3 separate regions of the Homo sapiens genome follow, and all the other regions are reported to be linked to region 2. Evidence: microRNA targets listed by miRTarBase, many of them from high-throughput screens and not tested one by one. Region 2 holds a microRNA gene; each other region holds the end of a gene's coding sequence.

The links. Region 2 holds the annotated microRNA hsa-miR-329-5p (GAGGUUUUCUGGGUUUCUGUUUC, at 1,880-1,902, opposite strand). A microRNA usually pairs through its seed, bases 2 to 8, with sites in the 3' UTR of a target mRNA and lowers its output. Matches are read on the target gene's strand: a 7mer-m8 pairs with bases 2 to 8, a 7mer-A1 pairs with bases 2 to 7 and ends in A, and an 8mer does both.
Region 1: the mRNA of ZNF439 is a reported target of hsa-miR-329-5p. Seed matches in the 3' UTR shown: 7mer-A1 at 1,208-1,214.
Region 3: miRTarBase lists USP36 as a target of hsa-miR-329-5p. Seed matches in the 3' UTR shown: 7mer-m8 at 3,516-3,522.

Annotation. Positions count from the first base shown.
Region 1 is chr19:11,867,768-11,874,959 of GRCh38, forward strand. ZNF439 (zinc finger protein 439) reads left to right here. Exons shown (of 4, transcript NM_001348719.2): 4 at 1-1,719. The coding sequence ends at 802. It also overlaps the pseudogene VN2R14P. Among named protein-coding and RNA genes, the nearest start is that of ZNF69, 16 kb to the right of the region's middle. RefSeq lists an enhancer at 4,827-5,121.
Region 2 is chr14:101,021,507-101,028,698 of GRCh38, reverse strand. It overlaps MIR329-1 (microRNA 329-1), which reads right to left and starts at 1,914; the gene lies at 1,835-1,914. It overlaps LOC124903407 (mucin-2-like), which reads right to left. Exons shown (of 5, transcript XM_047432049.1): 5 at 1-7,192. It overlaps MIR379 (microRNA 379), which reads right to left and starts at 6,633; the gene lies at 6,567-6,633. MIR411 (microRNA 411) reads right to left here and starts at 5,374; the gene lies at 5,279-5,374. It also overlaps MIR299, MIR380, MIR1197, MIR323A, MIR758 and MIR329-2.
Region 3 is chr17:78,792,609-78,799,800 of GRCh38, forward strand. It overlaps USP36 (ubiquitin specific peptidase 36), which reads right to left. Exons shown (of 21, transcript NM_001385174.1): 18 at 7,059-7,160; 19 at 6,300-6,415; 20 at 5,792-5,943; 21 at 3,044-5,271. The coding sequence ends at 5,812. Among named protein-coding and RNA genes, the nearest start is that of CYTH1, 14 kb to the left of the region's middle.

The DNA.
Region 1 (7,192 bases), not on the chromosome of region 2:
AAGAACTCACACTGGAGAGAAACCGTATGAATGTAAACAATGTGGTAAATCTTTTAGTTATTCTGCTACCCATCGAATACATGAAAGAACTCACATTGGAGAAAAGCCTTATGAATGTCAGGAATGTGGGAAAGCATTCCATAGTCCCAGATCCTGTCACAGACATGAAAGGAGTCACATGGGAGAGAAGGCTTATCAATGTAAGGAATGTGGAAAAGCATTCATGTGTCCCCGTTATGTTCGTAGACATGAAAGGACCCACTCTAGGAAAAAACTTTATGAATGTAAGCAGTGTGGGAAAGCATTATCCTCTCTTACAAGTTTTCAAACACACATAAGAATGCACTCTGGAGAAAGACCTTATGAATGTAAGACATGTGGGAAAGGCTTTTATTCTGCCAAGTCATTTCAAAGACATGAAAAAACTCACAGTGGAGAGAAACCGTATAAATGCAAGCAATGTGGTAAAGCCTTCACTCGTTCCGGTTCCTTTCGATATCATGAAAGGACTCACACTGGAGAGAAACCCTATGAGTGTAAGCAATGTGGGAAAGCCTTCAGATCTGCCCCAAATCTTCAATTGCATGGTAGGACTCACACTGGAGAGAAACCGTATCAATGTAAGGAATGTGGGAAAGCTTTCAGATCTGCCTCACAACTTCGAATCCATCGTAGGATTCACACTGGAGAGAAACCCTATGAATGTAAGAAATGTGGGAAAGCCTTCAGATATGTCCAGAACTTTCGATTTCATGAAAGGACACAAACACATAAGAATGCACTCTGGAGAAAGACCTTATAAATATAAGATATATGGGAAACACTTTTATTCTGCCAAGTTATTTCAAACACATGAAAAAATTCACACTGGAGAGAAACCCTATAAATGCAAGCAATGTGGTAAAGCCTTAATTGTTCCAGTTCCTTTCGATATCTAAAAGGACTCACAGTGGAGAAAAACTCTATGAGTGTAAGCAATGTGGGAAAGTCTTCAGATCTGTCAAGAACCTTTCAATTTATGAAAGGACACACACTGGAGAGAAACCCTATGAATGTAAGAAATGTGGAAAAGCGTTCCATAATTTCTCTTCTTTTCAAATACATGAAAGTTGCACAGAGGAGAGGCGCCCTAAGAATGTAAGCATTGTGGGAAAGCATTCATATCTGCCAAGATCGTTTGAATACATGCAAAACACACACTGGAGAGAAACCTATGAATGTAAGGAATGCAAACAAGCATTCAATTATTTTTCTTCCTTGCATATACATGAAAGGACTCATACGAGAGAGAATCCGTATGAATGTAAGGATTGTGGGAAAGCATTCAGCTTGCTTAATTGCTTTCATAGACATGTAAAGACACACCAGAAGGAAACCCTATGAATGTAAGCAATGTGGCAAAAGCTTTCACTTCTTCCAGTTCTTTTCAATATCATGAAAGGACTCACACTGGGGAGAAACCGTATCAATGTAAGCAATGTGGGAAAGCCGTCAGATCAGCCTCAAGACTTCAAATGCATGGAAGCACTCACACTTGGCAGAAACTCTATGAATGTAAGCAGTATGGGAAAGCCTTCAGATCGGCTAGGATTCTTTGAATACAAATAATGAATGTAAACAATTAACTGTTTATAATAACTGTATACTAACAAATGTTATTCTTTTTAAATAATTAAGAAGCTATAATAAAATATCCATTGGTGTCATGTATTAGATCAAGCTTATAATGTTACATTGTTATTATTTGGATATTGTGAATCAGCATTACCTGGATTAAATGCCAGGCATATTTTTCCTCATGTAAACTTTACTTTTCATGCTTATGTACTTTAATTTTTATTTCAACTGTAATTTTTCTTTTTTTTTCCTTTTGCTTTTTCTTTTTCTTTTTTTTTTTTTTTTTTTTTTAGAAAGAGCCTCACTCTGTTGCCCAGGCTGGAGTGCAGTGGTGTGATCTTGGCTCACTGCAATCTCTGCTTCCCAGGTTTGAACAATTCTCCTTCTTCAGCCTTTTGAGTAGCTGGGACTACAGGCATGCACCACTTCACCCAGCTAATTATGTGTATTATTTAGTAGAGACGGGGTTTCACCATATTGGCCAGGCTGGTCTCGAACTCTGGACCTTGTGATCCTCCTGCCTCGGCCTCTCAAAGTGCTGGATTTACAGACATGAGCCACTGCGCCCAGCCTCAACCCTAATTTTTCTTTCACTCATAATACCAAAAGTTATCTCATGTATCTCTGAGTACCTTCTTGCCCAAAACCAGCAGCGCCATACCTGCTGTCAGCAAGGGTGTAATATACCATAGTGATAAATATGACCAGAAGACATAAATGACTGTGGGATGTATGAGAATTACAAGTCACATTGGTAAGAAGATAAAAATTTTCGTCATGTTTATGATTTGAAATATGTTTACTTCTATCAGTTTTAGAAATACAGTTACAAAATGCCCTTGTTTTTGTCCTGGTCCATCATGATCACTGAGGAGCATCATCTCATATGCCTGATATGTAACATGTGTCTCTCCAACAGTAAAAGACTTGGCCTTGGCTGGGTGTGGTGGCTCACACCTGAAAACCCAGCACATTGGGAGGCTGAGGCAGGCAGATCACCTGAGGTCAGGAGTTCGAGAACACCCTGACCAATATGATGAAACCCTGTCTCATCTAAAAATACAAAACTTAGTCAGCCATGGTGGCATGCTTCTGTAATCCTAGCTAGTCAGGAGGCTGAGAAAGGAGAATCACTTGAATCTGGCAGGCAGAGGTTGCAGTGAGCCGAGATCCCATCATTGCACTCCAGCCTAGTCAACAAGAGCGAAACTCTTTCTGAAAAAACAAAAACAAAAACAAAAACAACTTGGCCTTGTGGTGAGGGGAGGTCAGCTATAGACTTCTGGACCTGTTTTTGCCTTACTTATTCTGTAAAGACTAAAACATTTTCTAAAATGTATGGGCACTGTTAACTAGAAGGTACCTTAGTTAAAATATATAAATTCATTTACGCTTTATAAAGCTATATTTTTTTCAAATTGCTTTACTGAGTCATAGGAGGCTAATAAATTTGTGTAAATTGTCTAAATAAAAGCCTTTCTTCCTCTGATAATGTGCTGTTGATGCTAACTTGTCAACAGCCTGCTTATCTCAGCAGTGTAAAGTTAACGGTAACATGGAAAAGTCACTTTTATATATAATGCAATGGCTAGAACAATTCTGTCACTTCCTGTAAGGTCCAGTGAAGCTGCTCTTCAGAAACAGTTATTTAAAATCCTTATAGTCTAAATCTAGGCACCACAGGATGCAGAATCAATCACTGACCAAGCCCTGTCTGTGTGTGGAGGTGACACACCCAGTCCCAGATAATGTATCCACATCAGTGAAGGGAGGAGTCATTGATTGTCGGATCACACAAAGTAACTCAGAACAGGGAAGACAGGGCAGTGAAACCTGGCCAGGCATGGTGGCTCACACCTGTAATCCCAGCACTTTGGGAGGCCGAGGCAGGTGGATCACTTGAGGTCAGCAGTTCAAGACCAGCCTGGCCAACATGGTGAAACCCTGTCTCGTCTAAAAATACAAAAAAATAGCTGGGCATCATGGTGTGTGCCTGTAATCCCAGCTACTCAGGAGGCTGAGGCAGGAGAATCGCTTGAGCTTGGGAGGTGGAGGTTACAGTAAACTGAGATCACACCATTGCTCTCTCCAGGCTAGTCGACAGAGCGAGACTCCATCACACACACACAAAAAAAGTTGGGTGCACCTGAATCCAACCCCTGCCTCATCCTTCTGAATTGAAGGCCAAATGCACCCTGATACTTTTCACCAAAGAGTAGAAACAACACCATTCACTTGACCCCAAATGTGACTTTCCACAGGATGCAAGCACAGTGTTGGAATAGCCAATGACAGTGACAATAGAAGTGCAGGGTGAGGGTGATGAACAGGACACACTGGAGAGCCTGACATTAGGCTAGATATTGGGGTGTCTTGATGCTTCACAAAGAGCCCAAGGAGCACCCCAAAGAGGACACTGGAGCACAGGCCCAAAGGATCTTCGTATGCCAGGAAGGCCACTAATTTTGGAAGTCAGTGATGTTGGTGGGTTTAGCTTTGGGAAAAGAAATAGGGAAAATCTTTTCTTACAGCTTGAGAAAAATGAATAAACTTCCACAACAAAGTATAGTAGATAAATTGGTGAATTACAAAGATTTAGCAAAATATCAGTCCTCCTTTGCAAGTTGGAGAACTTGTAACAGTGGATAACTCTTCTCTTCCTATTATTTGTGAGGTAACACCTGGCTGGCAACTGTTGTCATATGTTTGTGTTCACATGTGATTAATATGTAGTATGGGCTTTGTTATCATGGAAATCATAATGAAATAATATTGTCCACCTTAATAAGATAACAAGATTCAGAGAAGATGATTAAATATTGAGTATTTCTGAGCACAAAGTTTGAGGATAGCCACTGGGGAAACAGATATCCTGAAGAGTGGGGTCAGTGCTCCAACACGGGGAAGTTGAGTCTTCACTTCTGTAGGGCAAAATGTAGACGCTTAACAGGGTGACATTTTCCATACAAGGCCAGTGCACACATTTCAGTGATTTGGTTGGTTGCAGCTACCAAATTTCAATGATGATTGCCTTAACTTTTTGTAAGGAGGGGTAGTGGTCTCAAAAGGATCCTACCTCTGTCACTTCCCACTCTTTTCTAATCATTTACAGCCCAAGAACAACAAAGATAATTAATCTTTTTGATATTCACAGGAAAGGAGCTATTACATGGTAGTGTAAACACATTTCTCAATATGTTTATTGACTGAAAGGGTTAGATACTTTTACTTTCCCTCATGAGGGATGAAAGGTAAGTACCTTATAATTTCCTTCTAGCCTATAAACATAAACCGAGTTTGAGAGATTTTGCTGGATTCTTCAAACGCTGGGTATTTTCTCATTGAAACAGAGGCCAGAGTCCAGTGACTGCAAGCTAAGGACAATGAGAAGCCTACAAAGAGAGGTTATTGAAAGCTCACGTCAGGCGGTGACTCACACCTGTAATCCCAGCACTTTGGGAAGCTGAGTCGGGCAGATCATCTGAGGTCGGGAGTTCGAGACCAACCTGGCCAACACAGCAAAACCCATCTCTACTAAAAACACCAAAATTAGCCAGGTATAGTGGCTCATGCCTGCAGTTCCCAGCCATTCAGGAGGCTGAGGCACGATAATCGCTTAAACTCTGGAGGCAGAGGTTACAGTGCACCAAGATCGTGCCACTGCACTTCAGCCTAGGTGACAGAGCGAGACTCTGTCTCCAAAAAAAAGAAAAAAAAAAAAAGCTCTCACTTGGTTCTTCCCATGGTGCCCCCACTGCAGGTGTACCAGCTACTCACGTTGACCATGGGAGGAGCCCTTTATAATAAAAGAATCTCAGAATCCTGGAAAGCTGGGGATCCACAGGCAGATGCAGTAGTCAGTGATGCCGTGCGCAAGTGATAATTTTTGTCATGGGGCTTTTTCTAGACACTTCTAGTGAAACAAATGTGGGTTTAGGTAAGAAATAACTTTTAATTCTAGACCTTGAAGTCAGCTTGTCATTAAAAGAGGTCATTTAAAAAAAAAAAGTCTAGGTACTGGACTTGTAAGTAAAAATAAAAAGATTAAATACCTAAAATGGGGTTGTATATAGGCTTAGAAGGAGTCAGTCAAAAATTCAGGGGCTGCTGGGCGTGGTGGCTCATACCTGTAATTCCAGCACTTTGGGCAGATCACTTGAGGCCAGGAGTTCAAGACCACCCTTGAAACATGGGTGAAACACCCAGCATAGTGAAACACCATCTCTATAAAAAAATACAAAAATTAGCTGGGCATGATGGCACACACCTGCAACCCCAGCTACTCCGGAGAATGAGGCATGAGAATCACTTGAACCAGGGAGGCAGAGGTTGCAGTGAGCCAAGATCATGCTACTGCACTCCAGCCTGGGCTACAGAACAAGACTCTGTCTCAAAAAAAGAAAAAAAAAAAAAAAAAAAAAAAAAGTTCAGGGACCTGGAGGAAGGAGAGAAACTGAAGCATGCTTTGATTAATAGATATTTCATTTTGACTGATCACTAAAGACAAAGCTATTCACCTAATGGTTTGTGAGGTGAATACTGGAATTTCTAGTCTGTGTCTGGTTTGTCATAGGTAACAAACGTGGCATCATCTAAGTCATAAGGGGAAGGGTGTTTTGTTGTAGTAAGGTGCTCTTGCACAACACAAAGGATGGGGGATTTCTTGAATCACACCTCTTTTCAGGATGACCCACCCACCCCCATCTCCTTTTCACACCCCTTACTCTCTTTGATTTGGCTGCTCCTGAGTTGTATCCTTCATAATAAGTTGGTAAATGTAAGTGAACTGTGGGTAGTTCTATCAAATTATGGAACTTGAGGAGGCTGTTGTACAGGACCCAGGTCTAGATGCAGTTGCTGAGAAGTACAGGTGGCCCCTGGGGCTTTGAGTGGCATCTGCTGAGTGGGGCTGTGTTGGGTGAGCCAGGAACTCATGGAGTCTCTGCTAACTCTGGGTGGCTTCTGAATTGAGTGGTTGCATGACTGCTTAGTGCTGGAGAATTCGCTGGTGTTCAGCAAGCACCACACATTTGGTGTCAGAAAAAAAGACAGCATAGGTCAGAACCTTCCACTGACTCACAGTGAGCGAGTGGTCTTTGGTGGGCATTGAGACCCCGGTGGAAGGACTGTGTCCACACTGTGGGGAGGGGCCAGCAGGGTGTGTGTGGAAGTCCCAGAAGTAATTTTCTGGCTGCTCACATTTCCCTCACACACTACCTAAGAGTGGGCCAGCCTGGCCTGTGTCTCCACAGTCCCAGTGGTTCCTAAGCTTGGGAATGTGTAACTATTGGAGTGTGGGTTTCCTTGTGAGCTGTGGGTGAGGCAGGCTGCCTACCTGAGCTGCCTCCCTTTTGTTTCTTTTACAAAATCTTGCTGCCATGGAATTGCTCTTTCCCCACGCCTCTGAGAATTTATTTTATTTTATTTACTTATTTACTTTATTTATTTATTTATTTTTCACACAAAATCTCACTCTGTCGCTAAGGCTGGAGTGCAGTGGCGCAATCTCGGCTCACTGCAACCTGTGCCCTCCAGGTTCAAGCGATTCTCCTGGCTCAGCCTTCCAAATAGCTGG
Region 2 (7,192 bases):
CGGAGCAGAGGTCTGAGAAGAAAATCCCAGGGCCAGGCTGCGGCTCTGCACCCTTGCCACCTGTCCTTTGACCCCTCCGTAGCCAGCAGAGCACCCAATCTACATGGACCCAGCAGCCGCCTACCCTGGATACCCCGGAGGCAACAGCATACTGCCTGCTGTCACATGGCCTTGACACACTCTCTCTGCCCTCTCTTTATGAGGGCTCTTTTCGGCTGGAAGGAACGGTGTTTGGGTATCAGCTAATAGGAAGGATTGGTGGCGGAGGTCATTGGTGCTACCTCATATGTTCTCTCTGGTTATAAAAAGCAGGGTTGACATGGAAATACCTGGCCCTTCTCCAGAACCTGAGGCCCTCCTCCCTCACAGTCCCATCCCCAAATGCCACAGATGAGCCGAGGACCCACAGTCACAGCTAAGTGCCATCAAAACAAATGCAGCACCAGCAAAACCTACTTCTGTGCCTTGGCTTTAGAGCTGGCAGGGAGCCTTTTCCTTCCCCAGAGGCTGGCATCACCTCCAGGAAGTCCTCCTGGAAAGGATCGGGCACCAAGCATTACTGCCAGACAGGACGCTTAGAACAGGGGAAGCACCCATCTCGGCCCACTCACCCTGGCCTGGGCCTGACAACTGTCTTATCCGGAAGCCTTCCAAACTGGTGTTTGATACTGAAGAGTGGTCCACAGAAATGATTTATATAAAAGAAACAGATATGCCAAAGGAAACCTCTCCTTGAGCACCCCAAAGAAGGACCATCTGCAGAAACACAACCCTGAGGGTAGGTCAGATGTGCTGGTCAGTGGAGCAGGTGTGTTCCTGGGGAGGTACATGCCCCGTGGTGGGCCATCCACTCCCTTCCCCTGGATCAGGGCTGGTGACAATGCCCTCCCTTCAAGCTGGCATGACATCAAGGATTCCTCCAGATTTAAAGGAAGTCAACTCCACAATTCCTGTGAGAAATAAACAGGTCTCAACCTGGGCCAATTCCAGGGCCCCCAAGGTCTCCTCTTGACCTCAGAATCAGCTTTTCTTCCCTAAGGTGTCATTATATCCAGGACATCCTTTCAGAATAAACTGCAGGCTAGGGGCAGGCGTGCAGGACACCTGCACTATCTGTCCAGGGCATGCTGGCATTCCCCTGCTGTGGGCTGGGCTCATTCAAGCCCATCACTGAGTGTGGCAAGGACGAGGCATCCCCCTACAGCAGGGTCAGATGCCGAAAGAGCCTGAATTACACACACGATCCGTTGGGAGCACAACGAAGGCAACCACAGACAACTCACCTGCATGTTCCGTGACACTGTCGTGGTGACACTGTCTTCCCCCAGGCTGCCATCACATTGAAAAGTCCTCCTAAGAAGGGATAAGACATTGAGGGTTAGCGCAATCGGTGGCAAAATTCAGAAACATGGGGCACGCTTAGTGATCAGCCATTTGCTCGTGTCTCCTTATTTATGTCCACAGCACCCCTTCCCTGAAGCTGAGGTCTGGACCAGAAGGCCTCCAAGATGGGATTTGATACTGGAAAAGAGGTTAACCAGGTGTGTTTCGTCCTCAATAAAGAAACAGAAACCCAGAAAACCTCTCTTCAGGTACCACCAAGTAACACTGACAAGAACACCACTGATTCCTTCCCCAAACTTGACATTCAGTCCTGGAAGTCCTGTTAAATACGGATTGGACACTGGGGTTAGTAGAACAGATGACATCAGTCAAAATAATACAGCACAGGCTTCGTGGTTAACCATAGATTTCTGTCCAGTGGACTGGAGCTGAGAGTAACGCCCTTCCCTGAAGCTGAGGTCTGGACCAGAAGGCCTCCAAGATGGGATTTGATACTGGAAAAGAGGTTAACCAGGTGTGTTTCGTCCTCATTAAAGAAACAGAAACCCAGAAAACCTCTCTTCAGGTACCACTGATTAACACTGACAAGAACACCACTGATTCTTCCCCAGACTTGACATTCAGTGCTGGAAGTCCTGTTAAATATGGAATTGCACACTGAGCGTTAGTTAGTTGATTTGCCGGAAGAAGCCAAGAGTTGGATGCATGCTGCTTGCCAACCATCTATCCAAGTACCCCAGTGGAGCAGACCCCACATCACGTCTGGAAGTTGACATCACAGCCAGAGGTGGTGATGCCATAAAAAGGCTGGTCACAGCAGCTATCGCGTTTAGGGTTAACCTCCAGGGCCATCTTTTCTCAGTTACTCAAGAGAGGCACAGATGCCCCAAAGCAAGGCTGACTCCACCAAAGGTCCTGCTAAGGACCCAGTGGAGACTGAGGTGTGACGGGCCAGGCGACCTTGGTTGTAAATTAAAGTGCATACACTCAGGTCAGCTGATCACTGGAGGACTTTGGGATGGTATAGACAGCATGCCCCTTCCCTTGAACTTGGATGCCTCCACATCTAGGAAGCCCTCCAAGGAAAGAGATCGGAGTGAAAATCAGTCCAACTCAGCCACATTTGGCATACATGTCGCAAACGCCTCGCAGATGCTCTCTTCAGAGTCTAACAGAGTGCAGCTGGCCCCAGTTTACTGTCTCTTTCCCAAAAAGTTGACACCTCTTCCAGGAAGTTCTCCAAGGGGGCATTAGATACTGAGGGTTAGTGGACCAGGTCACAAACGGCACAAATAAAGCGTGTGCTCTCTGGTCAACCATCTCATGTATCCAGGCACGTGCTGACACCACGCTCCTTGTCCGCAAGTTAACCCTGCTGCCAAGCCAGAGCAGTGTGCTGAGAAGAAGGCTGCCACACGTGAGTTATCGTCACACACAAGACAAACACATCACAAACCCCGCTGGGTCACACTGAGCGCAGACCTAGTGGCCCCCACCCCCGCAGTTGATGTTAGCTCCAGGAAAGCTTGCAAGGCGGGATTAGATACTGCAAAGAGGTCGACCGTGTAATGTGCGCCATAAATAAAGCGAACGCGCCACGGACCACCTCTCTCCAAGTACCAAGCAGCAGCCGTACTGACACCAGGACAGTGGCTCTTCCGCAAAGCTGATATCACCTCCTGGAAGTCTTCCAAGGCGAGATGTGATATTGAGAAGAAGTAGACCATGTGTCCTACGTCACAAATAAAGCGTACACACCATGGTCAACCGCATCTTCAAATACCAGGAAGTGACGCTGACCCCTGGCTCTCTTCCTTTCACCTGCTATCACCTCCAGAAAGCCTCACAATGCGCATCATGAACTACCAGCCACCGGCAATGTGGCAATGACCACAAACCCACATCCAATGCCACTACCACCTCCAGGATGCCCTGTAAGGGTGGGACCGGTACTGAGTTCTTGGCTGGTGGACCAAATGGCCAATGTAATAAATAAAGGACTGGGTCTGCAGCCAACCACCCGGTGACCTGCACTGCACCCTGGCTACCACTCAGGCCTGGCTCTCAAGTCGGCATGGCCTCCGGGAAGCCCCAGGGCTGGCTGATACTGAGAATGAGTGGACCATGCTACATCTGTCATTCAACAATGCATATGCTTTATGCTCTACCATCTCTCCAAGTACTGTGGAATGGCGCTGAAGCCAGATCAGTGTGTCTCCCACGAAGGTGACTTTGCCTCTCTCTGGGAAGCCCTCTATGACTGAATTTGATATTGAGAAGATGTGGACCATATTACATACGACACAGAGATAGCGCATGTTCTATGGTCAACCATCTTTTCAGGTACCTTGGAGAGGGCTGAGGTCAGAGCCGGTGTCTCTTTCCTCTCACTAGCATCACCTCCAGGAAGCCCTCTGAGGCCTGATGTAGTATTGAGAAGAGGCCACCATGCAATGTCTGCCGCAGATGCAGTGGACGCAGCACAAAGGAGCCCCTCAAGAATGGAGATGATGCTGGAACTAGTGCTATGACTGACACTCGTTCCTGCCTACAGAAAGCCCCCCGAGGTGCACGCTGTTATAGGAAGGTGGACGAAGTAACATGCGTTGTAAGTAAAACATATGAAGCATGGCCAACTTCTACTAAGTACCCCGAGGCAGTACTTGTACCAGAACTGGTGCTTTGTCTCCTAAGCTTAACATAACCTCCCTGGAGACTTTCCAGGCTGAATGGGATACTTCAAAAGAAGTAGACCATGTTACATACGTCATGGGGAAAAGACATGCAGTGTGGCTGAACCCTTTTCAGGTACCGTGAGGTCAGTGAAGAGGCCAGAACCAGTGCTCTGTCCCTGAGGCTGGCAGCTTCTTCAGCAAGTTCTCCAAGCAAGGGTTCTGGGATGGAGATAGGGAAGAAGTGGGCCATGGAGGCACTTCCTCTGTAAACATACACGATGGGGTCGAGCAGCTCTTCATGAGGATCAGTGCTGAGTCCAGAGCTGGGACATCTTCCCCCGAGATGGCTAGACTTGAGATGGAAAAAAGATAGACTGTACACGCATCAGCAAAGACAAAAACGAGTCAGTGCGTCTTCAAGTACCTGGAGTGGCATCATCTCCTGGACCCATATCTGCTCCTACATGGGCGTACTGTCCTGAAGTCATCTGAGGAGGGCTCTGAGGATGAGAGGTGACCTGTTTCACATCCCTCGTTCATGAACATTTGCGGCACCAGCCACCGTTTCTTCAATTACTCCAGAGGGATGTGCCAACGTGGGCAGTAGGACACCTTCCTGGAGGTCATCCTTGTCCTGAGGAAGTCACTGGAGGCTGTGTTTGGCACTGAGGAGAAGACCGCATCACAAGCATTGACAGAGAAAGCACACATCTAAGAGTCTACCATTCCACCAAGTGCCATGGCATGGCGGATGCCGAGACCCGTGGCTCTCCTCTAACTCCAGGCTTTCTCCAGGGAGGTTTGGATGGCTGGGCTGGATACCAAGAAGCGGTTTACCATCCCACATACATATTCAAAATGTATGTGGGACGGTAAACCATTTCTTCAAGTACCGCACGATGGTGGTGGTGGTGGCTGGAAGAAGGCTCATGTCCACGAAGTTGCCTGAGGGCGCTTCTTCTAGGCTGCATTTGACGCTGAGAAGAAGCAGGTCACGGTGTCTACTGAATAAGCGTAGCGTAGTCAACCACGTCATTGAGCACCATGGAATGGCACTGATTCCGGGAAGAATCAAGGTCTCCTCCCCAGGGATGGCGCGATTTCCCAAGGCAGAACTTGATTTAAGAGGAGCGAGATTATGCCATTTTGCATCATGCAGAAAAACACATGCCATACAGAAAATCATCTCTTCGGGTGTCATGGAGAAGTGGTGGTGGGTCCAACCGTTCCTCCCCGAAGACAGCGTTGTTTCCAGGAGCCTCGGGGATGGATTTGATACTGAGGGTTAGTGGACCGTGTTACATACGTCACAGATAAAGCGTACGCTATACGGTCTACTATCTCTCCAAGTACCACACAGAGATGCCGAGGACAAAGGCTCAGGACACATCCAGAAAGCCCTCCAAGGCCTTGAGCTGGGTGGAACCAGAAGGGAGGTTGAGCACAGCACATGCATCATGCGACAAGCACACACAGGCCAGGAGTCTCGTCTTCATGGTCGGGGGTTGACATGAATGCTCGAAGCAGTGGCTCATCCCCAAAACTGGCAACTCCTCCAGGAAGCCCTTCGAGGCCGAAAGTCCCACTGAGAAGAAGTGGACGATGATATGGATTTCATCACTCCATAAATACTGATTAAGTGCCTGCTGTGTGCCAGGCGCACTGTGCTGGGTCTGAAGGAGTGGGTAGATGGGAGGGAGGACATGGCACATGGCTAACAGAGCTGGTTAGGGGAGTGGGGAGAAAATCAGAAATACAAAATGGCCCACGTGCAACCAAAGAACATCCATCTAGTTACACTAACCAGGCCAAGGAAACAGTACTGGGCACCTGAGGCCCAGATCTTACCTATTAGTGAGCTCTAGTCTTGGGCATTAAAAAAAAAAAAAAAGTGCCCTAAGGCCATATCTGCCTCAATACCAAGGGCATTTCCAGGAGGTCCTCTTAGGTTGGATTAGATTCTGAGCAGTAACCACCATGCCATCTTCATGAACAAAGCAGGAGTTGTTTTGGTCAACCACCTCCCTAAGGACAGAACCACTGTCTCATTCCCAGACTTGGCACTGCCTCCGGAAAACCCTGAGACTGAATGTAAGATTGATCAGAGGTGGACATTGGTATAAACAGAAAACTTCAACACAGGAAAGCAACTCTTCAATGCCACACAGCGGAATGAAGGATGGACTGGTGGGTCCCCCTGAAGGTAGTATTGGCTCCACGAAGCCCTCCAAAGCTGGCAGGCTACTGGGAAGTGGTAGCCCATCTCACACAAATCCCTCCTTTCGCACAGGCCACATGGCAAATCATCTCTTCCAGAACCACGGCTGAGGCTGGAACCGGTGTCTTGAGCCCAAGTTGCATCACTTCCAGAAAACTCCCCAGAGAGTGCATTTAGTGCCCAGAAGAGCCAGGCCTTGTTGCACAAGTCAGACATCAACCATGAGCCACAGAAATTGCCGTGGAGCAGTGCTGAAGCTAAACCACGTGTTCTCTTCCCTGAAGTTGGCAACACCTCCAGGAAGCCCTCCGAGGATGGATTGGATACTGAGAGTTAGTGGACCATGTTACATAGGTCAGAAATCATAACGCCTACGTTCCATAGTCTACCATCTCTTCAGGAACCACGGAATGGTGCTGACCCCAGAACCAGGGCCTTGCCCCTGAAGTTGGCGTCACTTCCAGAAAGCTTTCTGAGGCTGGATTTGGCATTGGAAGCAGGCACATGGTGAACATAAACAACCCCTCCTCCAATGTGGGGCAGTGGCATTGATGGGGGAAGGGGTGCCTCTACCCTAAGTGGTAATTCCTCCAGGAAGGCCATGTCAACTTGGAAAGACTGCGACAAGGCAAAATGTACAATACTGACCATGCTTTGGCCATTATGTGGTCAACTATCTCTTCATCAAGATAAAGGGCAGTGTTTTGTTCTGCATGGCAAATGGGACACTCCAAGAGCACAGTTCATCATATAAAAGGGGACCCTCAACCTCTAGGTAAAAACTTCCCTAGCTCACCCAAGTTCCGATGGTCCTCGCCATGCTCTAGACCACCTTTGGAGACTCAAACCACAGAGCTGAGTGGGCAGTGCGTTCCTCCAGCTCCTGATTAACCTCTCCACCTCCTTCAGGAGGTCTTCCTTGATTTTCTCCATCCCCTTTCATGGCACAACTATC
Region 3 (7,192 bases), not on the chromosome of region 2:
TGTTTTAAGGAGCCCCTGGCAATTCTGGTGCTCACTTGAGTTTGAGACCAGGGACCAGGATGGCAACTCTCAACTCTGCTGCTCACTATGATCCCCCCGGGAAGGTTTTTTTTGTTGTCGTTGTTTTTGAGACAGAGTCTCACTCTGTCGCCCAGGCTGGAGTGCAGTGGCATGATCTTGGCTCACTGCAACCTCCACCTCCCAGGTTCAAGCAGTTCTCCTGCCTCAGCCTCCCAAGTAGTTGGGATTACAGGCACAGGCCAAGCCCAGCTAATTTTTGTATTTTTAGTAGAGACAGGGTTTCACCATGTTGGTCAGGCTGGTCTCGAACTTCTGACCTCAAGTGATCCGCCCGCCTCAGCCTCCCAAAGTGCTGGGATTACAGGTGTGAGCCACCGCGCCCGCCCCCCTCACCCCCCCAGGAAGGCTTTAAATGCTGATGCCTAAGCCTCACCCATAGATTCTGATTCTACTTCCGTCAGTATCGAATGCCTCTCCCCAGGTGCTCCTGCTGCCCTATGAGCATTGAGAACCCTGAGGTAAGAAGGAGAAGAGAACAGAGGGAGAGGAGCTGGTTTTAGCTTTGGTTTCCCCATGTTGTTTAATTTTGGGGTGGGATGGGAATTCTTGAGGTAGCCTTGGAAGTCACTTACCAAGAGTAGTGGGCACATATGCAATGAGAGAGCAAAATAGTGTGCAGGGATCACTGAAAAGAATGGGAGAGAGAGGAAGGAGTTGCCTGAAGACCAAGGGCAGAAATCCCAAAAGGCAGGCAGAGCCCAACGAAGAAGGGCAGCCAGACAGCCCTGAAAGCCGAATCCATGGCACCCAGATGATCTTCTCCAAGGGTCATCCCCAGTCCAGATATGGAAGGAGCAGGGGGCCAAGCCAAGGCGGGATCTGCACGAAGCAGCAGCAGGGCCACCTCCGGGCAAGAGTGTGACTCCAGGGAGTCAGCTCAGCTGACAAGACACAGAAAGCTGCCCGTCTGCATGTCACGTGACCTGTCCACACACAGTCCTCCTTTACCACCACGTCCTTGGCGTACCCACATCCTCATTGCGCTGAGGTTGTCCAAGCTACCAAGACTTGAGGCAGGGATTCTCACAGCACCGTCCAGTGTTAAACTGCCCTTAAGGTCACTATTACAGTTATGATGAGCCCTAACAGTATGTTAGGGATAAACAGATGCCCACCTGATTCCCCAGTGTCCAGACACCTGGGCTTTTTCCTAACTAGAAGACTCGGAGTTCACCCACTGCCTACTTCCCATGCCTAGGATTCTCCCTGGGTTCCCTGTACTGGTAAGATGCCAACACGTCCACTAAGTCAGATTGAATCTCTCACCACCTGAAGGCCTTCCTGAAACCATCGGTGAGCCGCTTGCTTCCCTGGCTACTACTTGGCCTCCGAACCCAACTAACCACCCTAGCAGAAATCATCTTAAACTCCACCCAGAACATTCCACCCTATCTGTCATCTCACCTCTTGAGTCCATCTCCTAAATATCCAAGTGACCTCACTTCTAGCCTATGCTACTAATGCCAATCTCTTAGCTCTAGCCTTGGCCACTTCTCAGCCAACCTGGCGGCTGGTCATGCTCACCTGCTGTTCTCTGCACTCCACCAGCCGCCTTTCAGGCCATCAGGCAGCCTGGAATCCACTATCAGCCTCAGGAGTCTAAAAAGCACATCAGACCTTGGTAACCCTTCTTGTCCAAACTGTCAAACAAAACCTGCCCTGCGCTTTTGCACCTGACTTACAGTTAGCCAGCTGAGTCCTGCTGGCCAGCTCCCACTGCCAGCCCCCTTTCAGAATGTCACCTCACCCCACGGTGCTTCAGGCAGAGCTCATGACAGGCTCCTCATGGCCTCCCTGCATCTCCCTAACAGCACTCACCCTGCCCTGGAGCCGTCAGTCCTGCCGGTGGGACTCTGCCCGCCGCCTGCGAGACGACGTGAGTGTGTTCACTTTTATACACACCCAGAAGTGGCCCTAGTGTTTGGGAAACGGCAGTTAAGAATGGAAAAGCCTGTCAGGCGCGGTGGCTCACACTTGGAATCCCAGCACTTTGGGAGGCCAAGACGGGCAGATCACGAGGTCAAGAGATGGAGATCAGCCAGGCGCAGTGGCTCACGCCTGGAATCCCAGCACTTTGGGAGGCTGAGGCAAGCGGATCACAAGGTCAGGAGTTAAGAGACCAGCCTGGCCAACATGGTGGAACCCCATCTCTACTAAAAATACAAAAATTAGTCAGGCGTGGTGATGCGTGCCTGTACTCCCAGCTTCTTGGGAGGCTGAGGCAGGAGAATTGCTTGAACCCGGGAGGCAGAGGTTGCAGTGAGCGGAGAATCGTGCCACTGCACTCCAGCCTGGGCGACAGAGGGAGACTCTGTTCGGGAAAAAAAAAAAAAAAAAAAAGTAAAAACCACAGCCTCGCCCATGTCGCCACTGCACCCAGCGTTGGTGTCAGATCACCACCTCTCCAAGCCTCAGAACCCCCTCAACCGCTGCCCAGGCTACAACGCAAATGCCTTCAGACACAGCCTGGCTGGCAGGAAGGCCTCTGGGTCAGCAGTGTGCCCTGCTCTCTGCCACCCCTTTGGTTTGGATGCAGGAGCTGCCTCACCTCGCTTGTTCTTACTTGGCTGTCCTCATTTTGGGGTGTCCAGCCAAACCCCTAAAGAGAAGCGAAGACATGATGCCCTGTGTTTGGTGGATACCGTGGGGTGGAGAAAGCTTACTTCCAAGTTGCTAAAGGGAGATGCGGGGAGCCACACACATCAGGTAACAGCTGCAGAGCAGCATTCTCAACAGGAGCCGCTGCACGGCAACCCGCCTGCGCCCCGGGGTTCATTCAGCCTCTTGGTCACCTATTCACTAGGGCTGCTCTCATAACCTCCTGGTCACTGAGCTCCCTGCAGGGACCTACCTGCCCCTCCTAGCCCAGCCTCAACTTCCAGGACAGGTGGAATCAGCGAGACTGTGGTTGGGATGTACTTTAAAAAAAAAAAATCAAATGAAACCAACAAAGACACAGAACTCACAAAACCGGAGTATTTTATTGCACCAAGATCTTGGCAACACGTGGGGCTCCCCAGGCCCCCGGAAAGGAGGTGCAGAGGATGGGACACAGACCTCTGCACACACACAGGTGCGGCCATGCAACCAGGACGCGGGGCAGGCAAGTGAGAGGACCTGGGAGAGGTAGCTGCTGTACACAGGCCCCACTCCCTCCAGCTCCATTCCCAAGCACAAAATTCAACAGACCCAGATCCTAAGTCAACCAAGTGACTGCTATGACAAAGGCTTGGGTTATTGACATTTACTTACATACGTGTACAAGACCTAGAGTTTGAACTCGTTTTCTGGGCCTCATCTTTCCCTTCCCTATCTGGTTGATGACTTCGGTGGAGGGAAGGGACGTGACTCCACCCAACAGTGATAAACGCTGCAGAAAGTCATCTCGTGCTCACCACTGCCCAAGAGTTAACGAATGTATGTACCCCAGGAAAAGGTTTTACAGTTATCTAGTGGAGAAGGGAAGAGACTGATTTGGAGGAGAGAAGGGAGAGAAAGGAACGAGATAAATTCTGTGCCAGCAGACAACTAACATTTTCAACTACAGAACATCACACGGTAAACATGGCAGAGGGAACAGTTCACACAGGAATGCAAGTCAACACCCCGAGAAGAAAAGGAACATACCCTGCCCGTGAAGGCATGTGCTTTCCCTTCCAGATAAGTTACAAAGCCAGAGCACGGAAGCCAGGCCCTCATCTTTGAACATTCAGAGACTGGTCCGCAGGAGAGGGCACCCTGAGCAGCTCCACTCACTGCTGCTGGGACACAGGTGGCCACAGGAGCTTGATTCTCTCCCACCCTTCTAAGAAGAGAAACGTAAAAACAGAAGAAAATCCAAAAAGAGACACCCACCCACATGGAAAAAAATAAATGTATCTTCCCATATTAAAAAAGCAATTCCATCTACACGCCAGTAACCACCCAGGCCCCGAGCACAGGGGCAGGAAGCAAAGCTGCCCCAGGGAGAGGGGGTGCAGACAGCGAGGCAGCCACCCGGGACAGCAGGATGCCTCTGGCCCAGCAGAGCCACACTGAAGGAGGTCTAAGTCCAACACCACGTTGTCCATCTCCACCTGCGACGACTCCGGGAGGAAATGACGGGGACAGACCCGATGAGGAAGGATGTTCACGGTCACCTTCACACTTCCCACTACTATGAGGGCATTTGTCTTTTTCCTGAAAATATCACCTTCTCTGAGGATTTCCTGTATTTATTAAGTTACAAGTTGGCAGGCACAGCTTGAGCAACATAGAAAAGTAATCTTCTTGAGTTATACAATCATTTAAATTCCAAAGCACTCACAAAATTGAGCAAACAAAGCCACTATTTGCATATTTGGGAAAGGAAACATATTGCTAATGGAAGCCACAGGACTGGTCAAAAATAAATGTTTTGTATTAAGTAGTAAAATAAATGGAGAATTCTACCCCAAAGCCTCCACCTCAGTGAAGACCTGCGGGTTATTGCAGCTGCAAGGGAAGCTACAGCACAGTCGTCTCAGAATAAACAGCAGCCTGGAAAGCAGATGTATTCGCAGGTATCGAGGGCTCCTCCGACCCCAAATAGCCTCTGCTCTCCAGGACAGTTGAGAGCTACTCACAAGGAAGGGGTGCACAGTAGGGCCACCCTCTCGAGTTCCATAAAAGGGAGAGGTGGCTGGGTGGGGTCACCTCTTCCTTTCTGAGGACAGGTAAGGCCAACAGATGAAGGGGTCCCGCTGAGGAAGCAGGGGAGGGCGGGCTCGGACACAACGGTGGCGTCAGCCCCGAGAAGCAAGGGATGGCTTGCCCAGAGCCACCAGCTATGCACCGGGAGACCACCTGGGGGACATGTGGCCACCATCCCCCACTCTCCTGATAGCCCCAACCAGGGGCAGCAGCCTCTGCCAGCACAGACCACTGTCTATGAAACATGAGAAGGCACAGCCTGGCAAAGATGTCCAGCAGGTGTGCGGCCACCTCTGCTCACACACACACTGTCGTTTCTCTTGCAGGGCTGGTCGGGAATGTCACCAAAGAGGTTCCGATCTAGAGAAGCCTCAAAGCCTCTGTGTTGGGCGGTCTGTGGACACTGGTACCGGGAGAGCTCCTACCGTGACAGGCTCCCAGCGCAGCAGAGCCCACACAGAGAGCTCCCTCAGATCCAGACCGACAGCTCCCGGGAAGGGACGCCTTGTCTCCAGGAGGCTGCAGAACAAACCACGGTAGTCCTGACAGAGAGAAACGAGACCCGAATCTTCCCACTGCCACCCTCGGGTATGAGTCCAACCTAGGAACCCAATGCATGGCATCTCGATGCGGCTGGCAAGAAGTCACCCTTCTGCAAGTGACTGGGACACATGCCAGATATACACACAACCCACATCCCACACACACCCCACACATGCCCTTCTCCAAGTGACCAGAACACATGCCACAGATGCCAGGTGTACACACCCCACACCCAACACACACTACACACACCCCCTTATACACACGCATCCCACACACACCCCCTTATACACACGCATCCCACACACACCCTTCTCCAAGTGACTAGGACACACACCACAGACGCGCCCACACCACACACACCACCCAACACACATGTGCCAGATACACAGCCCACATACATCATACACACACGCCACACCCCACCACACCCCTACACACATACACGGCACACACACCCCCACCTCACCCTTACACCCACCCCCTCGGAACCGACCTCCTTCCACAGGGGCACAGTCAGCGGCGATAGCTGAGGCTGGCAGCCTTTGCTGGGTGAGTCACAGACCAGAAGTTCCGTCGAGTCTGAAGTTTCTGGAAGGCGTTGAAGTTTCTCCTCTTCTCTCTCTTAAATTTTTTAATTTTCTTTTCCTAGACCAAGAATCACAGGCATCACAGTTCCCAAAAACGGCTCTTTCCTGGCCCACGGGGCTCCATGCTGCATGCAGGTCCTGCACACAGGCCGGGCTCTCATGAGCTCTCTGGAGACCCACTCTTCACAATGACCCCTGTGCACGGCGACCTGCAGTCCCCCTATTGACAAAGGGGCGGAAGCTGCGAGGATGCATGCCCTGTCCATGGCCACACGCCCGGACAGGCCTGGGCAGCCTGGCTCTTCTCATGCTCGGCCGCTTCATGCCACTGCCGCCACCTCCAACTGCCCCGGCTCTGAGCTGAGCCACGCCGCCCTGCTCCCTCAAGCCTGTGGTCAGCATCACACATCATACCTTCCCTCGGTCAAACTCTTCGTCCCAGTCATCAACCACGGTCTCAGTCCGGGCCTGTCTGCTGTCTTCAATAGCATCCTGACTGACCGCCGACATCTTGCCATCCCAGGTCAGAACTACCAGGCAGACACGGGGGTCAGCACGAGTGCAGGTTCCCAGGTCCCCTGTGGCTTCACTTCAAGAGTGTCATTTACCAACTAGTCTACTCATAATTAGTCAACAATTTTGAGTGCCACCTTGTGGTGAAGAGAAGGACAAGAGGAGGACGGCTCGACGCCCATGTGTGGTCGGTCAGCATGGAACCCCCAGCGATGCCCTCTTAGCTAAACCCTAAACCACAGCCAAAGAGTTCAGTTCTTTCTAAACCCATGCCCTCGTCTGAGGAACAAAGATGTCATGTTTGGTCTCGAAGTCTGAATAAAAACATGCTCTGAGCAAGAAGTGACATTACCCAGGTTGGAAGAGCTTCGTCACTCTGCCCCTTCCCTACCCAAGACACAGCATGTGTGGGGCTCCTCACCCTGCCCCAACCCTCAGAAGCAGCTGTTCTGGATCCTGCCACGGACAGAAGCCACCTTCGTGCCACGGCTGAGGGTTTAAAGAGGACTCCAGCCAGTGTTGAGATTCCTCTTCCCATTCTCAAAGCCGAGCGATGCCCGCCCGCCACACTCACAGTGCACCAGGATCCATTCCACACCCTTCCCTCCTACAAAACCAACCAATGAAAGGCAAACAGAAGTCCTGTCTCCAAATCAGTACCTTTTCTCCCGTAAGCTTTATCAGATGAGTATTTGAGCAGTTCCTGGACCACATCAGACTCCCGCTCTCCATTCCAAGACACAGGAGGGGCCTGGCTCAGCCCTGCAATCGGAGCAGCCAAGAAACATTTACAG